Homo sapiens: one gene and its partner. The protein of the gene in region 1 interacts with the protein of each later gene in a biochemical or structural test. Each region holds a gene or a part of one and is shown in the gene's direction. Other genes may lie near its edges.

What was found.
Region 2: of the proteins of LZTR1 (region 1) and MRAS, one has a biochemical effect on the other in vitro, tested with the Homo sapiens proteins (one study listed by BioGRID).

Annotation. Positions count from the first base shown.
Region 1 is NC_000022.11:20,988,797-20,992,296, forward strand, and holds part of LZTR1 (leucine-zipper-like transcriptional regulator 1), read left to right. Parts: coding exon 1-76; intron 77-828; coding exon 829-886; intron 887-1,589; coding exon 1,590-1,729; intron 1,730-2,831; coding exon 2,832-3,033; intron 3,034-3,417; coding exon 3,418-3,500. UniProt on the Homo sapiens protein: Substrate-specific adapter of a BCR (BTB-CUL3-RBX1) E3 ubiquitin-protein ligase complex that mediates ubiquitination of Ras (K-Ras/KRAS, N-Ras/NRAS and H-Ras/HRAS).
Region 2 is NC_000003.12:138,372,566-138,376,295, forward strand, and holds part of MRAS (ras-related protein M-Ras isoform 1 precursor), read left to right. Parts: intron 1-300; 5' UTR 301-318; coding exon 319-511; intron 512-3,730. UniProt on the Homo sapiens protein: Signal transducer in the Ras-MAPK signaling pathway that regulates cell proliferation and survival. Core component of the SHOC2-MRAS-PP1c (SMP) holophosphatase complex that regulates the MAPK pathway activation.

The DNA of each region.
Region 1 (3,500 bases):
TCGCTAGGTCAGCCCATGGGGCCACGGTGTACAGTGACAAGCTGTGGATCTTTGCTGGCTATGACGGCAACGCCAGGTGGGTGGTGGTCCGGCCTGTGCACCCCACCTCCGACAGCACTGAGACCCGGAGCAGGCCGTCCTGGCATTTGAGGGCTTAGGCTGGGAGGATTTTGAGTGCCTGGTGGATTTTGAGTGCCACTCTGTCTGGGGGTTTCTTGGGAGGGGGATGGGGAAAGAGGAGGATGGACAGATGGAGGTGAGGGCCACTGGGTGGAGCCCCGTGGCTACCAGAGTAGCTTGGATGAGGATCCTCAGCCAGGAGTTGCCCTGCGGAGCTGAGTTGGTGGGCGGGTGGGCGGTGCCCAGGCTCAGGCCCAGCCCTGGTTCTTGCCCAGGCCAAAGGCCTTTTCCTCCTTATTTTAGAAAGTTGGCTTTGCTCTCTTTTTCTGATCACAAAAGTAGCATATGCTGGTTTCCCAAAACTTCAGCATCATAGAAACTCCTAACGATGCAGTGATGGTGGCATCTGGGATATCTGTGTCCTCTCCCCACCCAGGAGGGACACTGAGTGAGGAGCTGGCACTGCCACACTGCCCTGATGTCATGCATGAGAGTACTTGTTCTGTCTGGGCCGGGCAGGGGGCCTGGCACAGCAGGGATTTGAGGCAGTGGCTGCCACCCCACACAGAAGTTCCCGCCTCATGGCCGCACAAGTCTCCTACCCTGTGTGGGGGTGGGGCTCCTCCCTGCAGCCATCCCTTCCAGCCAGGACTAGGCCCACCCTGACCACCAGACCCAAGGGGTCCTCACTGGTCTGTCCTAATACAGGTTGAATGACATGTGGACAATTGGCCTCCAGGACCGAGAGCTCACCTGCTGGGAGGAGGTGAGGGGCGTGGGGAGCCAGGGCGCAGGTAGAGGAGGTGAGGGGCACGGGGAGCCAGGGCGCAGGTGGAGGAGGTGAGGGGCATGGGGAGACAGGGTGCAGGTGGAGGGAGGTGGGAGGCAGGGGGAGCCAGGCTGGGGGTCGAGGCTGCTTTCTTCCCCTTGCAAAGCCCAGCCTCGACCTGAGCCTCGCTCTCCTCCCTGGTGACCTGCGGGCCTTCACGACCAGTTCCTCACTGTGGCTGCACAGTGATTCGAGGTTTGGTGCTTTGGATGGGCAGAGTGCCACGTGTGTGAGGATGTGGTTTTGCTTTAACGCACCCTTTATTTCAGTGCAGTGAGGGCCGTCTGCTATCCAGTGTCCTGCTCCCTGGAGCTCCCCCTGGGCTTGCTTTCCCCTTTAGAAACATGGAATTTATTTATTTATTCATTAAAAAAAATTGTTTTTCAGTCTTCTGGGCATGAAAAACATGAGTTTAGCCCCTGATGATTTAACCCTGACGATTTTAACCCCAGCTGTTCACAACTGGGCCCCGTGAAGTGGATGAGACAGGGCTATGAGCTGTTCCAAGACAAAGGAATCTGTGAATCCTCATCTGGGGAAGTTTCAAGAATAAAAGCAGTCCCATCTCAGCAGTCTCGAGTGTGGTGAAATGTGAGCGGGCCCTGTGAGGCCGGGGCTGAGCTGTCCTCTCCCCCTGCAGGTGGCCCAGAGTGGCGAGATCCCCCCATCTTGCTGCAACTTCCCCGTGGCTGTGTGCCGGGACAAGATGTTTGTATTCTCTGGGCAAAGCGGAGCCAAAATAACCAACAACCTCTTCCAGTTTGAATTCAAGGACAAGACGTGAGTACTCTGGCCAGTGGGGTGGAGGGAGGACGGTCAGTTCCCTCGAATCCTTCTGAATATGAAGAACGCCTCTTGCACCTGGTGGCCATGGTAACCATCCTTGTGAGCTCTGCAAACAGCAGGAGGTTACAGCCCGGAGCAGGGATGTGCGGTGCCCCTGGCAGGTCCCCAGGATATGGCTACAGCTTAGCAAGATAAGGCCTGGCGAGGAGGCCCCTGGCTAGGCCTCCCTCTGAACGTGAAGGACGTCCCCTTCCTCGTGAATAGCTTGGTCAGTGCCACCAGTAACAGACGTGGCCTGCATAGATCTCAAATAATGGCAGAAGACCAGAGGGGCCTGCAGGTCCTGAGAGGTCTGGCCCATGCTGCCCCTGGCTGCTGGCCAGCCCTTGATCCCTGCAATGGGGCTGCAGGAGAGGGCACAAGGAGTGTGAGCTGCAGGTACAGGGGGTTTGGGAAGGGACTTGGGAGCTTCCCTGGAGGCCACGGGTGCGTGGGAGGAAGGGCAGGGAGCCCCAGGATGAGGGAAATTGTCAAGGGCCTGGGGCTCAGCATGGAGCCAGATGGCATAGCCCTGCCAGGCCAGGATCTGTTCTGAAGTCTTCAGCTAACTTAGCAAAAGAGAGGACTTGCTGGGAGGTACTGGGAAGCCTGGGAGGTGGAAGGTGCTGGGGCAGCATCAGGATGTGGGGTACAGGCAGCTCCCAGGATGGGGACTCAGCTGTGGGGATGCTCTGACTGGGCAGCGTGAACACAGTGACCTGCAATGGTCTCTGCACAACTTTACTCCCCAGAGAGCAGGACTGCCTGGGCGGGTCAGATGCCACCCTCCTGCCCATCACTGCTGCCTGCTCCATGGGGAGAGGGGGGAGCTCTGGCAGGACCCTGCGGTGGGCCACATGGAGCCAGGCAGGGCTGGTGCCCGTGCTGGATGGGGTGAGAGGTGCTCAGCGCAGGTGTCTAGGCCCTCCCTCTGGACCCTGGGCTAGTCACCGTAAGGGATGCAGGGGGACCTCCCAGTGAAGGCCTGCTGTGGGGAGGCCCCGAGGGTGAGCAGGAGCCCCTGTCCCAGCATTGATTCACTGTTGTGTACCCCCAGGTGGACACGCATCCCAACTGAACACCTGCTCCGGGGCTCCCCACCACCCCCGCAGCGGCGCTACGGGCATACCATGGTGGCCTTTGACCGCCACCTCTATGTGTTTGGGGGTGCGGCCGACAACACGCTGCCCAACGAGCTGCACTGCTATGACGTGGACTTCCAGACCTGGGAGGTCGTCCAGCCCAGCTCCGACAGCGAGGTGAGGGTGCCCAGGGGTGTCCTGACCTGCCAGCTGGACACCAGTAGCTCCTACCCTGCTCCCACCCAGCTCCTCACAGCTTTGGGGCCCCCTGGGGTTCCAGACAGCTACCAGGAGCAAGGCCAGGACACCTGGGCCTCAGCCCTGGACACCTGCCCCGGCCTCCAGCCCCAGCTTCACCCCACAGCCTGCAGGTAGTTAACGCTTCACACCCCATCATGGCTGCATGGGGCTGCTGTGCTGCAGACCTTTCCTGGGAAGCCCACGGCCATGCAGCTCTTCCTTCTTTCAGAACCCACTCTCAAGGCCAGGATGGTGGGGGTCTCTGGGCACCTACCTGGCCCTTGCCAACTGGTCTCATGCCCATGTGTCTCCCCTCTTCAGGTTGGTGGGGCTGAAGTGCCCGAGCGAGCCTGTGCTTCCGAGGAGGTGCCCACCCTGACCTATGAGGAGCGGGTTGGCTTCAA
Region 2 (3,730 bases), on another chromosome or scaffold:
AGCTTATTTGACATGGCTTTTGGCTATACTTGCTAAACAAGACCAGTGGTACTGTGTCCTCAACACCAGGCCTGGCACATAATTGGTGTTGAATAAATGATGGTTGAATAAATCACTTTAACAGTGGACTGTCTCTGGCTAGTGAGACCAGGGGTAATGCTTTTATTTTCTTTTGCATTTCTTCATTTTCAAACCTCTTTATAATTGAGAGTATTACTTTATAAAGGAGGAAAACATATGAATATTTTCCCCTAAGTTAAAAAAGCCCTCTGTCTCATTCCACATGTCTTGCTGCCGCAGGTCTGACCTACGAGAAACATGGCAACCAGCGCCGTCCCCAGTGACAACCTCCCCACATACAAGCTGGTGGTGGTGGGGGATGGGGGTGTGGGCAAAAGTGCCCTCACCATCCAGTTTTTCCAGAAGATCTTTGTGCCTGACTATGACCCCACCATTGAAGACTCCTACCTGAAACATACGGAGATTGACAATCAATGGGCCATCTTGGACGGTGAGACCTGGGTGGCAGCCCTGCATTGGGTGGGATAGTAGATGGGGAGGATCAGGGAAATTTGACAGGTTTCAGTGGGGCAAGATGGTTTCCTTAATGTTGCTGTTATGGGATGGTTGATATAAAGCCGTGTGTCGTTTTCAGGGTGAATTCTCAACAGGGAAGGCCTGCGTAGAGGGCTTGCAAGATTTCGTGGAAACCAAAATGTGCATTCAGCAAAGAGGGGAGGCTAGAATCATGCCAACTCAGTGATGTCATGTGTGTTTTTTCTTGCTGATCAGAATCTCTGATTAACAGTTATGGATGTCTTTAGCTAATAAAAAAGGGAAAAGCAAGTTGTTTCTTAATGAGCATAGTTTACTTGGTACTTGTCCTTTGAGGGGAATCTCTTGCATCTGACATTGTGTTTCTAGCTGAGTGTGAATTAGTCTGGATTACTAGTTCTAAGTGTGGCAGCCAGGCCAGCAGTAGCCGCAGCATCAGGAAACTAATTAGAAATGCACATCCTCAGGCCCATACTGATTTGGAAATTCTGAGGGTGGGCCCAACACCCTGTGTTTTAACACACCCTCGAGGAGATGCTTGAAATCAGGGAGTATTAAATCTTCAACTTCGTTATTTTTCAAAGTTGTTTTGACTGGTCTAGGTCCTAAGGTATTTCTATGTGAGTTTTAGCATCAGTTAAATTCTAAAATTCTAGATTTTGATTGGGATTGTGTTGAAACTGTAGATCTGTTTGAGGAGAGTTGATATTTTAACAATGTTGAGGCTTCCAACCCATGAACACAGTATCTCTTTCCATTTATTTATTTATTTATTTATTTATTTGTTTATTTGGGTCTTCTTTCTCTTGTCAGTTTTATTTGTAGGTTTTTTTGTTTGTTTGTTTGTTTTTGGGGGGACGGAGTCTCGCTCTGTCACCAGGTTGGTGGAGTGCAGTGGTGCAGTCTCAGCTCACCGCAACCTCCGCCTCTCGGGTTCAAGCAAATCTCTTGCCTCAGCCTCCCAAGTAGCTGGGATTACAGGCACGCACCACCACACCTAGCTAAATTTTTTTTGTATTTTTAGTAGAGACGGGGTTTCACCATGTTGGCCAGGATGGTCTCGATCTCCGGACCTCGTGATCCGCCTGCCTCAGCCTCAGCCTCTCAAACTGCTGGGATTACAGGCATGAACCACCACGCCTGGCTTATTTGTAGTTTTCAGTGCATAGGTCTTTTACATGTTTTGTCAGTTTTATACCTGTATCTGTATTGATGCTACCGTAAATTATTATTTTTGGTTTTTTATTTCAATTTTCAGTTGTTTGTTGCTAGTATATATAAAAACAATAGGTTTCTGTATATTAATCTTGTAACCTACAACTTTGCTAAACTCAGTTACTAGTTCTAGTATCTTTTTTGTAGATTCTGCTGGATTTTTCTGAATAGACCATAGTGACTGCAAGTAAAGACAGTTTTACTTCTTCTTTTCCAATCTGGATGGCTCTTATTTCTTTTTCTTGCCTTATCTCATTGATTAAAATCTCTGGCATCCTGTTGAAAAGAAGTAACAAGAACAGACATCCTTGTCTTGTTCTTGATCTTAAGGGGTAAGTGTTTGGTCTTTAGCATTAAGTATGATGTTAGTTGCAGGCCTTTTATGGATGGCCTTTATCAGGTCATGGAAGTTCCTTTCTATTTCTAGTTTGCTGAGAGTTTTTATCAGGCATGGATGTTGGATTTTGTCCAGTGCTTTTTCTGTGTCTACTGAGATAACCAAATGGTTTTCCTTTTTTAGTTTGTTAATGTGGTAAATTACATTGATTGTTTTGTTTTGTTTTTGTGACAGAGTCTTGCACTGTCACCCAGGCTGGAGCACAGTGGCATGATCTTAGCTCACTGCAACCACAAAATACTGGGCTCAAGAGATCTTCTTGCCTCAGCTTCCCCAGTAGCTAGGACTGTAGGCACACACCACTGTGCCCGGCTAATATTTTATTTTTTTGTGAAGATTGGGGGGAATCTCCCATTGTCGCCCAGGCTGGTCTTGAACTCTTGGCTTCAAGCAATCCTTCCATTTCAGCCTCCCAAAGTGCTGGGATTACAGGTGTGAGCCACCATCCCTGGTCCTTGATTTTTTTAATATTAAACCAAAATTGCATCCCTGGAATAAACCCCACTTGGTCATGATGTATTATCCTTTAATATTGTTGGCTTTGATTTGCTAAACTTTTGTTTACAATTCTTATGTCTGTGTTCTTGTGAAATATTGGTCTATAGTTTTCTTGTAATGTCTGTGTCTAATTTTGGTATCAGAGTAATGTTGGCCTCATAGAACGAGTTTTATTCAATTTTCTGGAAGAGTTTGAGTTAAATTGGTATTTCTTCCCTAACTGTTTAGTAGAATTCACAAACAAGGCCATCTGGCCCTGGAGTTTTCTTTGTGGGAAGATGTTTTTGTTTTTGTTTTGAGACAGGGTCTCGCTCTGTTACCCAGGCTGGAGTGCAGTGGCATGATCAAGGCTCACCACAGCCTAGACCTTCTGGGCTGAAGCAGTCCTCCCACATATTTTGTCTGTCTGTTGGTTGTTTCAGCTGAGAACGTAAATCTGGTCCCTGTCACTCCATCTTGGCCAGAAGCAGAACCAAATCATGACTTCAAAAAAATACAACTTTGTGGCTGGGCGCTGTGGCTTACAAGGCCTGTAAATCCCAACACTTTGGGAGGCTGAGGTGGGCAGATTGCTTGAGCTCAGGAGTTTGAGACTTGCCTGGGCAACGTGGTGAAACCCCATCTCAACTAAAAATATAAAAATTAGCCTCGGGTGGCTGAGGTGGGAGAATCACTTGAGCTCAGGAGGCAAAGATTGCAGTGAGCCGAGACTGCGCCACCTCACTCCAGCCTGGGCAACAGAGTGAGACTCCCTCTCAAAAAAACAAAACAAAACAAAAAAACTTTGTAAATATGTTTTAAAAGCACTGAATTATATACTTTTAAAGTATTAATATTATGGCATGTAGATTGTATCTCAATTTTAAAAAGCACCGTCCTCCAAGGGTTTGTCTGCAGCCCTGGGACTTTGAACAATTTGAACAGGTACCAAGCACCTTCCCATCTTGGGACTTTGCATTTTGTCTTCTCTCTGCCTAGAACATTGTTCCTGCAGAAACACTGATTTCATTTAGGTCTCAGCTCAAATGTCACTTTATCTAAGAGGTCTTCCCTGACCAAACCATT